Linked DNA regions of Homo sapiens. The protein of the gene in region 3 purifies or fractionates together with the protein of the main gene of each other region. This does not show direct contact. Each region holds a gene or a part of one and is shown on either strand. Other genes may lie near its edges. The genes, in order: RAB4A, TMX4 and EREG.

The links.
Region 1: the proteins of EREG (region 3) and RAB4A purify together in Homo sapiens (affinity purification with mass spectrometry; 3 studies listed by BioGRID and IntAct, with this or other methods). This does not show direct contact.
Region 2: the proteins of EREG (region 3) and TMX4 purify together in Homo sapiens (affinity purification with mass spectrometry; 3 studies listed by BioGRID and IntAct, with this or other methods). This does not show direct contact.

The regions. Positions count from the first base shown.
Region 1 is NC_000001.11:229,287,638-229,295,590, reverse strand, and holds part of RAB4A (ras-related protein Rab-4A), read right to left. Parts: intron 6,863-7,953; coding exon 6,748-6,862; intron 1-6,747. UniProt on the Homo sapiens protein: The small GTPases Rab are key regulators of intracellular membrane trafficking, from the formation of transport vesicles to their fusion with membranes.
Region 2 is NC_000020.11:7,976,156-7,982,024, reverse strand, and holds the end of TMX4 (thioredoxin-related transmembrane protein 4 precursor), read left to right. Parts: 3' UTR 1-4,679; downstream 4,680-5,869.
Region 3 is NC_000004.12:74,381,903-74,389,855, forward strand, and holds the end of EREG (proepiregulin preproprotein), read left to right. Parts: intron 1-742; coding exon 743-892; intron 893-2,824; coding exon 2,825-2,906; 3' UTR 2,907-6,847; downstream 6,848-7,953. UniProt on the Homo sapiens protein: Ligand of the EGF receptor/EGFR and ERBB4. Stimulates EGFR and ERBB4 tyrosine phosphorylation.

The DNA.
Region 1 (7,953 bases), on a different chromosome or scaffold from region 3:
AGCAGGGTGAGCTGTCTGCGGAAGCCAGCACCACCCCCTAGATGGACACTAAGGGGCTCAGCAATCCACTCACTTCTCTGCGAGCTCCTCATCTACCCCACTCCCTGGCACAATTTTCTCCATCTCTTCCAGTTCTCGCCACCTCTCGGCGCGGTGGAATCCATAGTCACCACAGGAATCCATAGTCACCACGGCCCTACACCCACCTGCATCCCTGCCCTATTACTACGGGAAAACTGAGTGTCCCAGTATGTCATATCCACTCTCACATTCAAGAAGGCGTCTTTTGGTCATACATGTTTTCCCCTACATTGTCAATCTCACCCTCTTTGTGAGATTTTTCCCATTAGTGGCCGGACACCTATAATCCCAGCACTTTAGGAGGCCCAGGAGGGAGGACTGCTTGAGGCCAGGAGTTTGAGACCAGCCTGGGTAAGAGAGAGAGACCCTGTCTCTACAAAAAATTAGCCAGGTATGGCAGTACACACCTGTAATCCCAGCTACTCAGGAGGCTGAGACAGAAGGACTGTTTGATCCCAGGAATTTGAGGTGACGGTGAGCGATCATGCCACTGCACTCCAGCCCAGGCAACAGAAAGAAAAAAAAAAAAAAGCCAGGAGTTCAGGATTTTTCCTATTAGCAAAATAAAAATAAATTGGCTCTGGTACCGCCCATCTTAAAACACAAAACAGAAATATGCTGCACCATCTTTTCAGTTACTGTCCCACTGTCTGCTCTTCTCCACATCCAACTGTCTTTTTTGAGACAGAGTTTCGCTCGTTACCCAGGCTAGAGTGCAATGGCGCGATCTCAGCTCTCTGCAACCTCTGCCTCCCAGGTTCAAGCAATTCTCCTGCCTCAGCCTCCTGAGTAGCTGCACCCGCCACCACGCCTGGCTAATTTTTGTATTTTTAGTACAGACGGGGTTTCCCCATGTTAGCCAGGCTGGTCTCGAACTCTTGACCTCGGATGATCCACCCGCCTCGGCCTCCCAAAGTGCTGGGATTACAGGCGTGAGCCACCACGCGTGGCCCCACATCCAACTTTCTGAAAGAGCTGTCTTTACCTGCAGCTTCCTCTTCTTCACCGCCAACCTAGTGTCCATCTCTGCTACTCCCCAAAAGCCTGTCAAGGTCCCCACCCTCTCTGCAACCGAAGCTGGAGTGGGCATTTCTGTCCTCACTCACTCGCGCAGCCTCTGCGCCCTGCACTCTGCTAGTCTTCCTCCCGCTCACCAGCCACTTCTCTGGCTCTGGTCATTCTTCTGAATCTGCCCTGCTGGGATTGCGATTCCCCAGAGCTGGGTCCTGGGCTCTCTTAACATTCGACTCAAATTTTGTCTCCAGCTCAGATCCAAGTGCTGCCTCCATATCTCCATGAGACTGCCTGATAAACATGTCAAACTTAACATCTGCACAGCAGGACTCTTTTTGGTCCCACCCTCCAGGCCCGTCCTGGCCTAGGAAGAGGCATCACCACGCACCCTGTTTCTAAAGCAAATCAGCTCCACATTCATCCTCAATTCCTGTGCACCTCCACATTCACTCCGCCAGCCTAGTGCAGTCTCCTACACTACACAAATCCTGTGTCTGCCCACGCTGCTGTCCCTGCTGCCATGTGTGGCCCACAGTCCATTCTTCAGAGCAGCCCAACTCATCAAGGCCCAGGACAGGACATCTCCGTCACTGTACCTGTCCCTTTGGCCCCATTCTCTTCCCTGCTCCCAGCCCCTGCCACTCCCGTCTGGGCTCGTCACACCGCTGGCTTTCCTTGTCCCTTGGGTCTCATTAACTCTATCTCCTCAGCAACGTTCCCCAAGCATCCCCATCCAGTGGACCCCCTCTATCTCAGCGTGCTGTCTCCTGGGTGGCACCATCCCACTTGGTGGGATGCTCTTTCTGTCTCTGTCTCTGTGTTGGCTGCCTGCCTCCCCTCCATGGGGCAGGGCTCTGCTGTCTCACTCACCAGAGGATCCCAGTGCCTAGCACAGGGCCTGGACCACTGCTAGCTAGACATTCCCAGAACTTAACTGTGGCCTAATTAAATTAAAAAATATATATTTGGTCTTCGTCCCAGGTTCCTGGCACAGAGGCCCAAACCCCTGTGATTTCCTTAGTGATAAAGGTGTCTTTTGTAAGCCAAGGAGATAACTGTGGGAAGAGTAGCAGGCTAGAGAGCCTTGGGATCGGGGCTGTGGCCGTGGGAGCCCTCACCGAGTGAGGAGAGTGCTGGAACTTATAGCCTCACCTCAGCCCTCTGGGGAGGAAAGAGGAGCTGGAGATTGAGTCAATCATCAATGGATAATGTTTTAATCAATCGTGCCTTTGTAATAAAACCTCCACAAAAAAACCAAAAGGATGGGGGTCAGAGAGCTCCTGGGCTGGTGGTGGCATGGAGGTGCTGGGAGGTGGCCCATCCCCATACCTCGTCTCCTAAGCATCTCCTCCACCAGGCTGTGCCTGAATTGACACCTATCTAACAAACCAGTAAATGCCAGGAAAAATGTTTTTCCTGAGTTGTGTGAATCATTCTAACAAATTCTCCAACCTGATGGGGATGTGAGGGATGGAGGGTGTGGGAACTGCCAGATCTGTATTTGGCCAAGAAGTGCAGGAAGCCTGGGCACTCCAGTTGTGACTGGTGTCTGAAGCGGGGGTGGCAGTCTAGGTCTCCTTAGCCTGGAGGGTCCCCTTTAACTCTGGGTAGTGTCAAAAGTGAATTGAAGTGTTGGACACCCAGCTGGTGTCAGAGAATCCGACTGGCTGGTGTGAAGAAAAACCCCATAGACTTGATGTCAGAAAAAAAAAGACACCAGAGGAATGAACTATCCTTGGAGAACAAAGAAACCCGTGCAGCTTGCAACAAACAAACAAACAAAATTACTAATTATTACTTTGCTGCTTGGCAAAGAAGAGCTACTTTTAAATGTACTTTTTAGCTCTTAGTCAGGAAGCTTCAAGGTCTTCATGTAGCTTGAAGCTTTTCCTCTCTGCCTTGAGACTGTTAGCAAGAGGCACACGCTTTAAGGACTGGTGGCAGGTAGAGGTGCAGAGTGGACTGTTTGCTCTTCACCCCACAGCCTCCTAAGGCAGGGGGAAAGGCCTCGCTTGTTCACATCTATTAAGAGGCAGCGCCTTTCTATTCTTGCTCAGCAGGCACCTAGCTTCTAGAGGAAGAGGGAACTACGAGTTCTCTTCAAGATAAGCTGTATCACATCTACTTCTTAAAATTTTACTTTCAAATTTATTTTACAACACTGTCTTGACAAATAGTTTCTTATACAAATTACTCCAGTATACAAATATACACATTTAAGAATACTACTTTGAGGTGTTAAATTTTCTTTTTTTTTTCCTTTTATTTATTTATTATTATTATACTTTAAGTTTTAGGGTACCTGTGCACAATGTGCAGGTTACATATGTATGTATACATGTGCCATGCTGGTGTGCTGCAACCGCTAACTCGTCATCTAGCATTAGGTATATCTCCCATTGCTATCCCTCCCCCCTCCCCCCACCCCACAACAGTCCCCAGAGTGTGATGTTCCCCTTCCTGTGTCCATGTGTTCTCATTATTCAATTCCCACCTATGAGTGAGAATATGCAGTGTTTGGTTTTTTGTTCTTGCGATAGTTTACTGAGAATGATGATTTCCAATTTCATCCATGTCCCTACAAAGGACACGAACTCATCATTTTTTATGGCTGCATAGTATTCCATGGTGTATATGTGCCACATTTTCTTACAAAAGTAATTTAACCAATATAATACATGTGGATAGTTTTAAAGTGAAATGTCACGAAAAGTCTCTAAATTAAACACAGCCATCTCCTGCCTCACTCCTCTCTGGGAGCCCTACTCTCCACAAGCGAGGTGAGTTCTCTCTTTCTGGTAACTGGGTTTCCTTTAATTAAGTCATTAAAAGAGCACATACTGCGCCCCTGTGTGCTAGACACTATTCTGGGCACAGGGGAAACAAACAGAAAACTCAAAAACCCTTACACTCATGGATCTTACAGTTTCTTTCTTCTCATTTCTACAAAAGGTTTAGGAAACTGAATTTCAGAGCTGTTTCTTCCCCGCTCTGACAGAGTCGTGAGCTCTTACAGAGCCCCTCACTTGTTCCCCTGGTCCTCCTGGAAGGGCAGTGCCATCACATACTGACTGCTGTCTTAGTCTTCCCTCACTGTCCCTCTAGACCTGTGCCATTCTGAGCTGGATCTTCCTGCTGGCTTCATTTTCCTCTTTCTGGGATCATGCCCTTGTCCTGGTGAAGTATATCCTCCTAAACTTTCTAAGAAAGTACATTTCTAAGAAGTCTCTGAGAAAGATAATCTTGGCTTCCTCCTCTTTCTTGCACATCTGTTGGTATTCAGCCTTTACTTGCACACTTACAGTTTGGCTAAGTTTAGAATTTTAGGTTGAAGAATTATTTCACCCTGAGTTTTGAAGGCAATGCTTCCATTTCTTTTAGCTTCCAATGTTGCTGTGGAAGGGTGCAAAGCAATTCCATTTTTCACACTTTATATGTGGCTGCTTTTTCCCTCTTGGAACCTTTCTGGTCTTCCTTACTTCATCTGTGGTGTTCTGAAATTTCACATGGCACGCTCTGGTCTGGACTTTTTCCTTACTATGTTTGATTTTAGGTGGGCCAATTAATCTGGAATCTCATTCCTTCAGTGAAACATTTTCTTCTATTATTCTCTCTGCTCTTCTCTCTTCTGGAACTCCTAATAGTCATTGCATCTTCTGGATTAATTCTGGAGGATTCTTTATGTCATCTCTCCCATTTTTCACCATGAGTTTATTTAACATATTATTCTGATTGCTCTTTTTAAGTATGACTTTGTTTCTATTACATACTCCAATGCAATCTCTGCTCTTCTTCCTAAGGATACTGTGGTTTTAGTGTGTTTTTCTTACTCCCTCAAAGTTCCAGCTTCTTTACTTTGAGCTCTCTCTTTTGCTATAGAAACTTTCTTCAAAATTCTGCCTGATCATTAAGAGCAAGGAATGAAAAAGTCTAAAAGAAGCTCTTTATGTGTGGGTGGAGCAGGTGGGCTTGGAGGGTTTCACTTTCAGATGACTGGATAGAGACTGGGCTGTTTGACTGGGAAAGCAAAATGTCACTACCTTCAAGCCTTTCCTTTCTGACTATTCATTTTTCTGCAGAGAAGGCTCCTTTCTCCTATGTGGGACATACACACCTGGCTGCCAGCGACCAGGGAAGAGGTAGGGGAGGTGGGTTGGGGGCCAGAGGCTTTCATTTTCACTTAATTTCCCTCTTTTCAGGCCTGACCCCATGCCCTCAGGTGGGCCTTATGACCTTGAGTCTAGACTCCATTTCAACGTAAAAGACTGAACCTCTTATTTCGTGTGTAAACATGAACCTCTGTAACCTCTACCTCCTGTAGAACCTGATGCTTCCAAATCCTGACCTTTTCTGGGACTCCAGAGGAAGAAATGGCTTCCCCCATTACAGTACTTAAGGTGGAGCTCCTTCTGCTGTCAGAGCACCATCTACTTCCTATCTTTAAGATTTTTTTGGAAATCTCTCAATCATAATTGTGCACTCACTCAATCTTGGCCTTTTTGAGTTACTTCAATTTCAGTTACTTAACAGACATTTCAGTGGGGTTCTGAGAGGGAAGACATAAATGTCTAATTGAATCCACCATGTTTAATCAATGCTTCCAGAAAAATGATGGTGATTAAAGGTGGTTATGGTATTTTTGAAGCAATTATTGAACTTCAATTACTTAATTAATTTTTGAGATGGAGTTTTGCTCTTGTTGCCCAGGCTGGAGTACAATGGCGTGATCTCAGCTCACTGCAACCTCCACCTCCCGGGTTCAAGCGATTTTCCTGCCTCAGCCTCCAGAGTAGCTGGGATTACAGGCACCTGCCACCACGCCCGGCTAATTTTTTTATTTTTAGTAGAGAAGGGGTTACACCATGTTGGCCAGGCTGGTCTTGAACTCCTGACCTCAGGTGAGGAGGTCTGCCTCGGCCTCCCAAAGTGCTGGGATTACAGGCATGCGCCATTGTGCCCAGCCAAACTTCAATTATTTAATATACGACATGTACTCAACTTCAAGTGAAATGTTTACAAATGGGGTGGATTTTATTTCACTGAATTATAAAACTATGAATATCAGTTCTGACTTTGTGCATCTGTGCAAAAACCACAACTAAAATATTAATCTATTTTCTTGCTTTAGTAGTTACAGAATACTAAACATGTAACCTCATTTGCAGTGACTGAAGTCATTCTGAGCCTCAGTTATGACCCTATTGTAATTAAAGTGTGGAGAGAATATTTTGTGGAGTGTGTATCAAACATCAGAACATGCTCTAGTTAATGTAAAACAAAACAAACCCTCACAAGGTTTTAAAAAGTTCTTCTTTAAAAAAGGAACACAGAAAAACAAGCTTGTGCTTTGATTTGAATCTAGAAACATACTGTACAATACACAGTGCCACATCCTCCTGAGAATGGGTCAGCCTCCGAATTATAATGCAGTTGCGCGGAGATCCTCCTGTATTCTTTAGTAATCCATGCTGCAGAGAGCTAACCTAAATTTTAGCTGTCTTGTCAATCAAAGTTTCCAAAAATGAAGTTTCTGAGATTAGGACAAGGAAGGGGTGTGTTGGGGAGGGAGTGAGACCTTATATATTGAGAGAATATCATCAATTATTTTAAATCAAATTTTCAAATATTTTTATTAAGTTAGAGAAAAGCTACCTGAATCGTTCTTGTCCTGCTGTATCCCATATTTGTAACTTTACATATTTACCACCAACATTTATTATCTTTGAACCAAATTCCACTCCTATTGTATGATTTGAGTCATCTTTGACTAAAAAAGAAAAACAAGAACAGCATATTTAATTTTAGAACATTAACAGGCTTATAGATTTAAACAAGTGACACTAAAACCAAGAGTTACATCAATGGGGAATGGACATTACTCTAGCCATTCATTTCTCCAACATTCCATTGAGAAGATGCATTTAGTTTTAAAGATAATACACACAGCCCCTATTCTCAAAGAGACATAAAGATTTTTCTCAAAACCCCCAAACAAATGATACATTTAAAAACCTATGCCTGAAAGTAGCCCTGCCATATCCGAACCACATCCAACTGTGCACTGTTAAGATGCTCACAGATGGTGACTGCTGACATACCAGCGTACCATTCTGAAGGGCATAACGCCCAGTGACAGGTGTGGAACTCAGTAAGTAATGAGGTGGAGACAGTTTCAACTACTGTATTTGAATGGTTAAATATTTTAAAGAAATAACAGTGAGTGGAAGGAAAAGCAGAGGAAAAGGGAAAAGGAGGAAAAAAATTGAACCAAAGAAAAAACACCCTCCAAAAAACCCCAAAACAAAGCACCCTCCAAAAAACCCCAAAATAAAACACCCTCCAACAAACCCCAAAACAATACACCCTCCAATAAACCCCAAAACAAAACCCTATGCAAGCTACAGGTGTTTGAGATTTCATTAATCGTAGTGTTCTATGGAAATGATTTGGGATGAATTTGTTGGAGAAATTAGTACTATTTGAATGGGCAGGAGACAGGCAAAATAAGTATTTTGCTAAACCCAGCGGGAATACACTGCCTATGAAAGAACATTTCTGTGATGATAAACAGATAAGCTGAAATTGAATATCGCAGCTATACAGTCCATTGGCTAGTTTATATTTTGTAACTGCAGAACAAAATTTAATTGTTTCAGAGATCAGGGATGCCACTGGCAACTGGATTTATTATTTACAGGGCAGAGGGTAGATAAATGGTTACAGTGACTATGCTAGTCTGTTTCATGCCCAGACAGTATAGAACTAGTATGGAAATTCCATTAGGAGTAAACTACCAGGAAAAATGCAGGGTAAGATCCTTAAAAAAAATAGTAACTAAAGGCCAGGGGCATCCTGGTT
Region 2 (5,869 bases), on a different chromosome or scaffold from region 3:
GGAGACTGGGATGGGAACAAGTTCATTTACTTAGGGGTCAGAGAGTCTCGACCAGAGGAGGCCATTCCCAGTCCTAATCAGCACCTTCCAGAGACAAGGCTGCAGGCCCTGTGAAATGAAAGCCAAGCAGGAGCCTTGGCTCCTGAGCATCCCCAAAGTGTAACGTAGAAGCCTTGCATCCTTTTCTTGTGTAAAGTATTTATTTTTGTCAAATTGCAGGAAACATCAGGCACCACAGTGCATGAAAAATCTTTCACAGCTAGAAATTGAAAGGGCCTTGGGTATAGAGAGCAGCTCAGAAGTCATCCCAGCCCTCTGAATCTCCTGTGCTATGTTTTATTTCTTACCTTTAATTTTTCCAGCATTTCCACCATGGGCATTCAGGCTCTCCACACTCTTCACTATTATCTCTTGGTCAGAGGACTCCAATAACAGCCAGGTTTACATGAACTGTGTTTGTTCATTCTGACCTAAGGGGTTTAGATAATCAGTAACCATAACCCCTGAAGCTGTGACTGCCAAACATCTCAAATGAAATGTTGTGGCCATCAGAGACTCAAAAGGAAGTAAGGATTTTACAAGACAGATTAAAAAAAAATTGTTTTGTCCAAAATATAGTTGTTGTTGATTTTTTTTTAAGTTTTCTAAGCAATATTTTTCAAGCCAGAAGTCCTCTAAGTCTTGCCAGTACAAGGTAGTCTTGTGAAGAAAAGTTGAATACTGTTTTGTTTTCATCTCAAGGGGTTCCCTGGGTCTTGAACTACTTTAATAATAACTAAAAAACCACTTCTGATTTTCCTTCAGTGATGTGCTTTTGGTGAAAGAATTAATGAACTCCAGTACCTGAAAGTGAAAGATTTGATTTTGTTTCCATCTTCTGTAATCTTCCAAAGAATTATATCTTTGTAAATCTCTCAATACTCAATCTACTGTAAGTACCCAGGGAGGCTAATTTCCTTAAAAAAAAAAAATCTATCCATCTACTTCTCTCTTACCTGATTTATGTGTTAGAATAAATTCATGAAATTCGATTCCAAGCATACGAAAGATGCCTAAAGTTGATTCTATGCTCCTTAGATCCAGACAGAATAATGAGTACAGGTTTATGAAATTCTAAAAGTTTCTGTCGTCTTTAAAAAGGAACGTGCAGTATATTTCTATCTGGCTGTTTAGATAACCCTTTCCTTGTATTAATTGTGAGCACGGAGCTCACTGGTGGGGGAGGTTCTGAAACTCTCTGCCCTCCTGTGGTTGAATGAAGATGTTGCAAGACTTGCACAAAGGAGGTTATTCTTCTGACAGCATCAACTTTTAGAGATGGTTCTTTTTCATCTTTCCAATTCAGTTACTTGACAGTCTCCTTCCCCAGTATGCTGAAGTTTGTTAAGAGTCACCAGTAATTGTGCTTTTCAGACAGTAGTGCAGCTTCAAAATCGAGGCCATCACTGGGCTGATGGGCTGGGAGAACCTTGCCATGTGCCTGCCTGTTTCCTGCCCCCTTAGTCACTGCCCATTTCCTGCCCCCTTGGTCGCTGACACACCTTCACCCAAAGTGCCATGGTTCTGATGGTGGCAGTTCCATCTCCCTGACATCAGGAAGCTTTTCTCGATCAGAGCAGAGCGGGGCCTGCCTGCCCTCGTGTCACTGGATTTCTTTCTCTTATAATCAGCTGAAACAGAGTTCTCAAAGAACAGTAAACTCAGGTTCAGAGGTATTATGGAATAAGAATGGTTTCATAGTTTGGCTTTTCTATATAATTCCTCCCTCTCAAACTGAAATATTCATTTTTTTAGTGGAGTATTTGACTAGAGAGAAGGTAAGGCAGAAATACAGTCTACACTGGCTTTTAAAAATGTAAAGCCAATTTCCAACCGGACCCCAAATAGTACAGGTTGAACATTCCGTTCCAACAATCCAAAACCCCAAATGCTCCAAAATCTTAAACTTTGAGTTCCAGCATTCCGTCAGAAGTGGAAAATTTTACACCTGACCTCATTTGACAGGTGGCAGTTACAGTGCAATCAAAACTTTGTTCCATGCCCAAGATTATTAAAAATATTGGATAAAATTACCTTCAAGCTATGTTGTATAAGGTGTATATAAAACAAATGAATTTTGTGTTTAGACTTGGGTCTACTCCCAAGATACCTCATTATATATATACAAAAATCCCCAAATCCAAAAACATTTGAAACACTTCTGGTCCCACACATTTTGGATAAGGGATATTTGACCTATATCTAATTATATAATAAGAAAAATGTATTTTCTTTTTTTTTTTTTTTTGAGATGGAGTTTCACTCTTGTTGTCGCCCAGGCTGCAATGGCACAATCTTGGCTTACTACAACCTCCGCCTCCCTAGTTCAAGGGATTCTCCTGCCTCAGCCTCCCAGGTAGCTGGGATTACAGGCATGTGCCACCATGCCTGGCTAATTTTGTATTTTTAGTAGAGACGGGGTTTCGCCATGTTGGTCAGACTGGTCTTGAACTCCTGACCTCAGGTGATCCGCCCGCCTCAGCCTCCCAACGTGCTGGGATTACAGGTGTGAGCCACCGTACCTGGCAGAAAATGTACTTTCTTTCTCAGAAATACTTTTAAAAAAAATTGAAGGGTGAGGAGAAAAACATCTTGGAGAAGAGGACCCATTAAAACTTTAAATATCTGTGGGAACCATTTTTCCTGATTTTCCCTTTTTTAACATCATGGCAAAGATGGGTTTTTTTCCAACAAAATTTAATTTAATATCTTTCCACTTGAAGATTTTAGGTTTGTTTTCAATACTTAATGAATATAAAACTAAAGGAGAAAAGCCAACCTGAAATAATTTAAACTTTATATGAACATTTCGATAAGAGTTTGTGGATTTTTTCTGTAGATAATATATTTGATCCGGAACTCAAGTGCATGGAAACATGATTTTGATTTTTAAAATCTAAAAAAAAAAAAAATTAAAATCATGCTTCCCTCTATTGCAGTATCAGTTATTTAGTCACAGAATGGTATTTTATGTAAATTAAAATTAGGTGAATGCAATGCAGGTAACTGGTTTTGGAATGGGAATGTGCAGTGCTTTATGTTTGGGGAGTTGGAGCAGGGTATCTTTTCATCAATTAGAAGGAAAGTTTGAAACTTCTGATTACCTTTATGTTGGTTTCTCTTATTATTTGTCTCTTGCTAGATCTGCTAAACCAACCCAGCTTGCTCAGAGATCTCATATTGAAGCAACATACAGGCAATCCACATCTTTCTTTCCCTTTGAAGTATAGTCATTGGATGGGATGAGGGACAGGGCCTGTTGGGTTCACAGGGCCTTGCACTGCATGGGCACATACTTAAAAGCTCTTGTGCATGGAATCCCTGTCTGTTAGCCACAGGCCTCTTTAGCTCTATACATTCAAAATAACTACTGTAGTAGAAAATAGATAAGCTTCAGCTGAGTTGGCTTTTGATAGTGGAAAAAAAACAAAATTTGACTTTTTATGGCCAAAATTCCTTGTTGACAGCTGTGATGTTCTAATATGATTTGGGAATATGTCAGTCTACAGAACCTGCATCCTGTAAAAACACCTTTGGGGTAGACGATAAAAGTCATTTTTAAGGCAAATACTTACCATGTGACTTTTTATTACCAAATGCATCAGTAGTGGAGCTGGTATGTTGTTTCATAGGATGGAAACATTAGAAGTCCAGAGAAAAATAAATTTTAAAAAAAGGTGGAAAAGTTACGGCAAACCTGAGATTTCAGCATAAAATCTTTAGTATGAAGTGAGAGAAAGAAGAGGGAGGCTGGTTCTGTTGCTCGTATCAATAGGTTATCTGTGTCCCTCATCTTGGTGTTACAGTGTTATTTCTGTCAGTATTATGAATATGTGGTTGACCCATCCTGTCAAATGTACCAACATTTTCGAAAGAATTCATTCAAATCTCTTATGCCAACAGAAAAGTTCCTTCTTGTTTAATATCTCTTTACCTCAGTCCTACATTTTGATTCTCTGGAGGAGATTTTAGCTTGTCTTAAAAAGCCAAATTTGGAGTCATCAAGCCTGCTGAACCTGATGGGGCAGCTTTTTGAACAGCTTTCTGGAAGTAAGAACTTCAGTTGAAAAGCCCTTTGATCGCTTCAGCCCGGGACATGCCCTTCAGATGGCTTATTCTCAGTAAAGCTTTATGTAGACTGTGACACTGTATATGTGTGACTCGTACAACTTTGACGTGTTTCTGAAGTGGTTTAATCGTATTTGTTATTAGCTTCTTTGTGGAAATGCAATTTTTATACTAAAAACATTGCTTATTTGCAATGCAATATGTTATAAATTTGTTGTTTATATTACTGGTATTAGTCTTAGCCTAATGAACCTAATTATTTTTCTTTCTGTATTCTTTGCTTCCTCAAATAGCATCTGCAGCAATTGGAATGAGAAATCCAGATATGTGTTTCAAGTAGTACATTGCCTGAATCACAAATCACTTGATCACAGTATTGTATATAATCCCTGATCCTATTTGTTTCATTTTATTGTAAATTCCCATTTGCATCAAAACCTAATGATAGTGATTGGTAAGTAAAAACAAATGGTGTATTGCTTTTCATACAAGTGTTTTCACAAAAGCCATTTGCCTAGGCAGCAAAAAATATTAATTTGTTAAAAAAAATTTTCCTTCGTGTCCATCCTCCATCTAGTCTGTTCATTCATTCTCTCTCTTTCTCCCTTCCTGACTCGGTGAAACTCAGACCATGTGCCCTTTAGTTGCTCTGGAAAGTGCACAAAACCAAGGCAGGGTCCAAAGATCCAAGGCTCTTCCAGCCAGTGTGTTGCCATCAGAAACCTCTGGGGTCTCCCTCTGTCCTGAGGTCTTGGGGTAGCCAGATGGCAAGGGATGCTACTAATCCCCCAAGACACTGTGGATTGGTCTTGTCTTTGGGGCTTTCAGAAAACTCCCTTCTACACCTAACTCTCCCCACCACTATAGTGGAAAAGCATCAAGGTGGTAAGGTGGGTCCTTGAAACACCCTCAGAGACTGAAACAATGGAGATTGGATTTTTGTCTTTTGGAAGATGGTGGGGGATGTGTGTAGTGAGAAGACAGTTACTAAACCTGCATACCACCAAGGCCCTCCCTCAGAGATACTGGCTCAGAATGCTTATTTGCCTATACAGAGAAAAATGTCTGTCGTGCTGTCTGCCTAGATGACTTTGGTTATTCATCCTTGCCTATAGCAAAATGCAGCTTTCAAGCCAACAACACTGAATTACAAATTTAACCCCCTGCTTTGCTCTAGTCTTGAATGCTCTTTGGAACATATTTCACAGTAATAGAAATTCTTTCTTGGAACATGTGAGCTTCTTGAGATTGATAACTGTATTACGACAGTCCAGCCTGTGCTAACAGACCCGCAAATCTCGGGGGCTTTAAGAACAAGAATTGTATTACTGATTCACATAGCCCAGGCCAGGCATCCCAGGCAGGCTCTGTCCCATGCAGGTTTTTCTGGGCCTCAAGGTCAAGGGAGGCTTTGCTGTTTAACATGTGGCTGCTGGGCCGGGCATGGTGGCTCACGCCTGTAATCCCAGCACTTTGGGAGGCCGAGGGAGGTGGATCACCTGAGATCAAGAGTTTGAGACCAGCCTTAGTAACATGGCGAAACCCTGTCTCTACTAAAAATACAAAAATAAGCCAGGCGTAATGGCAGGTGCGTATAATCCCAGCTACTCAGGAGGCTGAGGCAGGAGAATTAATTGAACTCGGGAGGCAGAGATTACAGTGAGCCGAGATCATGCCTTTGCACTCCAGCCTTGGCAACAGTGCGAGACTCCATCTCAAAACAAACAACCAAAAAAACGTGGCTGCTAAGGTGGCTGTGATC
Region 3 (7,953 bases):
TGAACCCGGGGGGTGGAGCTTGCAGTGAGCGGAGATCATGCCACTGTACTCCAGCCTGGGCAACACAGCGAGACTCCGTCTCAAAAAAAAAAAAAAAAAAAAAAAAAAGAATTGATTCCAGGCCAGGCGCAGTGGCTCAACCCTGTAACCCCAGCACTTTGGGAGGCTGAGGCGGGCAGACCACTTGAGGTCAGGAGTTCCTGACCAGCCTGGCCAACATGGTGAAACCCCGCCTCTACTAAAAATACAAAAATTAGCGAGGCGTGGTGGCGCAAGACTGTAGTCTACTCAGGAGGCTGAGATAGGAGAATTGCTTGAACCTGGGAGGCGGAGGTTGCAGTGAGCCGAGAGATCACACCACTGCTATCCAGCCTGGGCGACAGAACGAGACTCCATCTCAAAAAAACCAAACAGACAAACAAACAAAAAAAGAATTGATTCCACTGATTTAGACAAAAGGAATCTCAAACCTGTACAACTTACAAAACACCACTGTGGACTGTCAGCCACCATGACAGCTGAACACAACCGTCATTTTAATACTACAATTTAGTCCAAGAGCTACGTGGAGCCCTTTTATCATTACTGGTCTAACTCAATCTTTGAAATCCTCTTTACAATCTTTAGCAAATTTTGTTGATTTCTTGCATTACAGTGTGATGTTAGTCCTTATAAAACTAATTCATAACCATGATTTCCTTTTTAAGTAACTGATCTTTCTTTCTTCCGTATTTTCCTTCAGGTGTGAAGTGGGTTATACTGGTGTCCGATGTGAACACTTCTTTTTAACCGTCCACCAACCTTTAAGCAAAGAATATGTGGCTTTGACCGTGATTCTTATTATTTTGTTTCTTATCACAGTCGTCGGTTCCACATATTATTTCTGCAGATGGTAAGTCAGTGTGGTTTTATACTCTGCTTTTACAAATTACTTTTACATAATGCAGACCTATAAACTGGGTAAAAATATGGATAAAGTATTAGAGAGATAAGATCAAACCTGTACAAATGATATTTACAAGAGTTGAGAAACTATTAAGTATTATGCCCAACACCTGAGTGATGGGATCAGCTGTACCCCTAATCTCAGCATCATACAATATATCCTGTTAAGAAACCTGCATGTGTACCCCCGAATCTGAAATAACTTGAAATTATTTTTTAAAAATATGTTTTTGCTGCAGAACATCTGGATTGAACTTTATTATCAGCTCTGATACTTATTACCTATGTGACCTTACATAAGTCAAATTGAGAGTATCAATTCCCTTCTTTATCAAATATGGACAGAAATTATTATCTTACATTAGTTATAGGGTGGTTGCTTTTAGTATGTAATATGATATTTCATGTGAAAGTAAATCATAGGATAGGTGCTACTGTTATAGTTAACCACCTGAATTTAATTCCTCAAGTCACATTTTTTATTTTATAAAAAACAACCTTGTAAATTAATAACCTTAGAAGCTTGGGTTATCTTACAGTTTAAGGCAGACTGGTGGAACTATTTCTAGACAATTATAAAAAATGGTTGTTAAAAAATAGTTTGTGTCAGTCCCCCAAAACAGTCGTACCTCATCCTCATGTGCATTATTGTCACAAGCTGAAAACAGAAAAATAGAAAGTGAACATTGAAAGTATAGTTTGGCATTTTTTTAAGGGTTAGGAGCAAAGGATGGGAACAGTGTGAATTAATTAATAACAGTTCCCTTTAAAATGTCTCCATGAAACATATTTTGAAACAGTTACAAATTACTCAAGGTGAATTTACGTTTTTATTTTTCTGTGAAAGTAGTGCACTTCCAATTTTGAAGGTCTGAAAGTGTGCTACTTTCATAATATTAAATTTATTTTGTCCACATTTGATTCTAAGTATCCATCAAATAATAATGCCTTCCTAATAAGTTGCCATGACAGAACTAAATATTATTAAAACTGAAATATGCCTGCAAATCTTTGACCACAATCCTTTCCTTTATAGATGGGGCACTGAGGTTTAGAGAGGTTCATTCAAATATCCCAGCTCATATAGTTGACAAATGCCAGAGTGAAGAACAAATTCTTTCTAATTCATATTCTTACAGTAAACATAGACATGATGTGGTTTCCTCAAAGCTACATGTCTTATTTCCAAAATAGGGACAAAATAAACTCAAAAATATTAGGAAAATAGCTTAATGAATAAATGAAAGAAGATTCTAAATTATGATAAATCTATGAATCCTAGCTATGAGACCTTGGACCTTGGGCACATTATATACAACCCATTTGTATTTCACTTTCTTCATCTGTAAGATGAGGATGGTAACAGCAAATGTGAGAGTAAAATAAATAATGCATGTATAGCACTTAGAAAATTGTAGGTCACCAAATTAGTGCCTGATAAATATTATTTTTATTTTGATTAGTGATAGCATTATATCAATGTGATGGAAAGAGTGTATTAATGTAGCATGATTTGTAAATATTCATTCCTTAGAAGGGAGGAAGGAAAAAGAAAGAGAGACAGAAAAAGAAAACCTAAAATTCAGACTTAAATGTGGCCACACGCCTCTTGGAATTTCACAATATTCATGATCACGTTAAAGACTTTGAGAAACTCTTTAAGTGTATTTTATCATTTCATTCCAAAATTGTTTGACTACAGCACATCACCTCTTCATCCCTCTTTTTTTTTTTTTTTTTAACATTGTCCAACCTAAATCTGTTCAACTTTGTCATTTTGGAAACACTATGCTAATGTGCCTTTGGAGTCCATATATAACACACTTGTTCCTTTGCTATTAACTGCAGTGCTAACAGTTTCGTTTGTGAATATTTCCAGGTACAGAAATCGAAAAAGTAAAGAACCAAAGAAGGAATATGAGAGAGTTACCTCAGGGGATCCAGAGTTGCCGCAAGTCTGAATGGCGCCATCAAACTTATGGGCAGGGATAACAGTGTGCCTGGTTAATATTAATATTCCCATTTTATTAATAATATTTATGTTGGGTCAAGTGTTAGGTCAATAACACTGTATTTTAATGTACTTGAAAAATGTTTTTATTTTTGTTTTATTTTTGACAGACTATTTGCTAATGTATAATGTGCAGAAAATATTTAATATCAAAAGAAAATTGATATTTTTATACAAGTAATTTCCTGAGCTAAATGCTTCATTGAAAGCTTCAAAGTTTATATGCCTGGTGCACAGTGCTTAGAAGTAAGCAATTCCCAGGTCATAGCTCAAGAATTGTTAGCAAATGACAGATTTCTGTAAGCCTATATATATAGTCAAATCGATTTAGTAAGTATGTTTTTTATGTTCCTCAAATCAGTGATAATTGGTTTGACTGTACCATGGTTTGATATGTAGTTGGCACCATGGTATCATATATTAAAACAATAATGCAATTAGAATTTGGGAGAAGCAAATATAGGTCCTGTGTTAAACACTACACATTTGAAACAAGCTAACCCTGGGGAGTCTATGGTCTCTTCACTCAGGTCTCAGCTATAATTCTGTTATATGAGGGGCAGTGGACAGTTCCCTATGCCAACTCACGACTCCTACAGGTACTAGTCACTCATCTACCAGATTCTGCCTATGTAAAATGAATTGAAAAACAATTTTCTGTAATCTTTTATTTAAGTAGTGGGCATTTCATAGCTTCACAATGTTCCTTTTTTGTATATTACAACATTTATGTGAGGTAATTATTGCTCAACAGACAATTAGAAAAAAGTCCACACTTGAAGCCTAAATTTGTGCTTTTTAAGAATATTTTTAGACTATTTCTTTTTATAGGGGCTTTGCTGAATTCTAACATTAAATCACAGCCCAAAATTTGATGGACTAATTATTATTTTAAAATATATGAAGACAATAATTCTACATGTTGTCTTAAGATGGAAATACAGTTATTTCATCTTTTATTCAAGGAAGTTTTAACTTTAATACAGCTCAGTAAATGGCTTCTTCTAGAATGTAAAGTTATGTATTTAAAGTTGTATCTTGACACAGGAAATGGGAAAAAACTTAAAAATTAATATGGTGTATTTTTCCAAATGAAAAATCTCAATTGAAAGCTTTTAAAATGTAGAAACTTAAACACACCTTCCTGTGGAGGCTGAGATGAAAACTAGGGCTCATTTTCCTGACATTTGTTTATTTTTTGGAAGAGACAAAGATTTCTTCTGCACTCTGAGCCCATAGGTCTCAGAGAGTTAATAGGAGTATTTTTGGGCTATTGCATAAGGAGCCACTGCTGCCACCACTTTTGGATTTTATGGGAGGCTCCTTCATCGAATGCTAAACCTTTGAGTAGAGTCTCCCTGGATCACATACCAGGTCAGGGAGGATCTGTTCTTCCTCTACGTTTATCCTGGCATGTGCTAGGGTAAACGAAGGCATAATAAGCCATGGCTGACCTCTGGAGCACCAGGTGCCAGGACTTGTCTCCATGTGTATCCATGCATTATATACCCTGGTGCAATCACACGACTGTCATCTAAAGTCCTGGCCCTGGCCCTTACTATTAGGAAAATAAACAGACAAAAACAAGTAAATATATATGGTCATATACATATTGTATATATATTCATATACAAACATGTATGTATACATGACCTTAATGGATCATAGAATTGCAGTCATTTGGTGCTCTGCTAACCATTTATATAAAACTTAAAAACAAGAGAAAAGAAAAATCAATTAGATCTAAACAGTTATTTCTGTTTCCTATTTAATACAGCTGAAGTCAAAATATGTAAGAACACATTTTAAATACTCTACTTACAGTTGGCCCTCTGTGGTTAGTTCCACATCTGTGGATTCAACCAACCAAGGACGGAAAATGCTTAAAAAATAATACAACAACAACAAAAAATACATTATAACAACTATTTACTTTTTTTTTTTTCTTTTTGAGATGGAGTCTCGCTCTGTTGCCCAGGTTGGAGTGCAGTGGCACGATCTCGGCTCACTGCAACCTCACCTCCCGGGTTCAAGAGATCCTCCTGCCTCAGCCTCCTGAGCAGCTGGGACTACAGGCGCATGCCACCATGCCCAGCTAATTTTTGTATTTTTAGTAGAGGCGGGGTTTCACCATGTTGGCCAGGATGGTCTCAATCTCCTAACCTTGAGATCCACCCTCCACAGCCTCCCAAACTGCTGGGATTACAGGTGTGAGCCACCGCACGTAGCATTTACATTAGGTATTACAAGTAATGTAAAGATGATTTAAGTATACAGGAGGATGTGAATAGGTTATATGCAAGCACTATGCCCTTTTATATAAGTGACTTGAACATCTGTGCCCGATTTTAGTATGTGCAGGGGGGCGATCTGGGAATCAGTCCCCTGTGGATACCAAGGTACAACTGTATTTATTAACGCTTACTAGATGTGAGGAGAGTCTGAATATTTTCAGTGATCTTGGCTGTTTCAAAAAAATCTATTGACTTTTCAATAAATCAGCTGCAATCCATTTATTTCATTTACAAAAGATTTATTGTAAGCATCTCAATCTTGGTTTGTCAGTTTATCTTAAGCATGTCAATTCATAAAAACAAGTCATTTTTGTATTTTTCATCTTTAAGAATGCTTAAAAAAGCTAATCCCTAAAATAGTTAGATCTTTGTAAATGCATATTAAATAATAAAGTATGACCCACATTACTTTTTATGGGTGAAAATAAGACAAAAATAATAGTTTTAGTGAGGATGGTGCTGAGTAAACATAAAAACTGATTTGCTCTCAGCTGATGTGTCCTGTACACAGTGGGAAGATTTTAGTTCACACTTAGTCTAACTCCCCCATTTTACAGATTTCTCACTATATATATTTCTAGAAGGGGCTATGCATATTCAATGTATTGAGAACCAAAGCAACCACAAATGCATAAATGCATAATTTATGGTCTTCAACCAAGGCCACATAATAACCCAGTTAACTTACTCTTTAACCAGGAATATTAAGTTCTATAACTAGTACTCAAGGTTTAACCTTAAAATTAAGATTTCCTTAACCTTAACCTTAAAATTGATATTATATTAAACATACATAATACAATGTAACTCCACTGTTCTCCTGAATATTTTTTGCTCTAATCTCTCTGCCGAAAGTCAAAGTGATGGGAGAATTGGTATACTGGTATGACTACGTCTTAAGTCAGATTTTTATTTATGAGTCTTTGAGACTAAATTCAATCACCACCAGGTATCAAATCAACTTTTATGCAGCAAATATATGATTCTAGTGTCTGACTTTTGTTAAATTCAGTAATGCAGTTTTTAAAAACCTGTATCTGACCCACTTTGTAATTTTTGCTCCAATATCCATTCTGTAGACTTTTGAAAAAAAAGTTTTTAATTTGATGCCCAATATATTCTGACCGTTAAAAAATTCTTGTTCATATGGGAGAAGGGGGAGTAATGACTTGTACAAACAGTATTTCTGGTGTATATTTTAATGTTTTTAAAAAGAGTAATTTCATTTAAATATCTGTTATTCAAATTTGATGATGTTAAATGTAATATAATGTATTTTCTTTTTATTTTGCACTCTGTAATTGCACTTTTTAAGTTTGAAGAGCCATTTTGGTAAACGGTTTTTATTAAAGATGCTATGGAACATAAAGTTGTATTGCATGCAATTTGAAGTAACTTATTTGACTATGAATGTTATCGGATTACTGAATTGTATCAATTTGTTTGTGTTCAATATCAGCTTTGATAATTGTGTACCTTAAGATATTGAAGGAGAAAATAGATAATTTACAAGATATTATTAATTTTTATTTATTTTTCTTGGGAATTGAAAAAAATTGAAATAAATAAAAATGCATTGAACATCTTGCATTCAAAATCTTCACTGACAATGCAGCCTCATTCTTTTTTTTTCTTTTGCAATTTTTTCCCCACAATACATTAAAGGGTTTAAAAGCAGTGACAGGGATATAATGTGTGTAGACATAATGACTCAATGGTGTTAATTTGGGAAAACATTCTATAAATGTATCACGTTTTATAGCCAGCATAGTGAAGAATTTCTTGTAATAGAAGGAGCCACATTAGTTATAAAATTCTAGGTGTTGGTATTTAAAAATCCTAGGAGTTAGGATTGATTGATTGATTGATTGATTGATTGATTTTGAGATGGAGTCTCACTCTATTGCCCAGGCAGGAATGCAGCGGCACGATCTCGGCTCACCACAACCTCCGCCTCCTGGGTTCAAGCGATTCTCCTGCCTCAGCCTCCCGGGTAGCTAGGACTACAGTCACGTGCCACCATGCCCGGCTAATTTTTGTATTTTTAGTAGAGACAGGGTTTCACCATGTTGGCCAGACTGGTCTCAAACTCATGACCTTGTGATCTTCCCGCCTCCGCCTCCCAAAGTGCTGGGATTACAGGCATGAGCCACCATGCCCAGCCTGGGGTTAGTATTTTTTAAAATAATATTTTAAAGAGTATTTTAAAAGAGTATTTCTAAAAAGAATAGATATCCTATTGGGAAGTAGCATTTGAAAAGATTCATCAGCCAGAATGGTGCCTTATGATTCTCTCAGCCTCTGCAAAGAGGCTTGGCTCCCCTGAGCCTTTAGAGCAGACAAGCTTGATTCTTCCCACCCTTCATCACAGTGATGGATGGCTTCCTTGGTATACTTATTCAGCAGCCTACAGAGTACTTGCTCCATTCCTTAGCTCCTTGGATCCTTCATTAGCTTGCAGCTGGGGAAGGGACCTATGGCTTCAACCCTTTGACAGGGAGGTTAAGCAATTGTCCTGGGTCACACCACTGGCAATAGGTGGAGGTGTCATGAGAATTCAGGTCTTCTCACTCCTAATTCCACTGATGTTCGGGCCATGTCAGAGGCAGAGGAAGATTATAAGGAGTTAGTCTCAGATCTAGTTTAGAGTTTTCTTGGGAGAAATAGAAATTCTTGTAAAATAGAATCTTTGAATTGTCATTG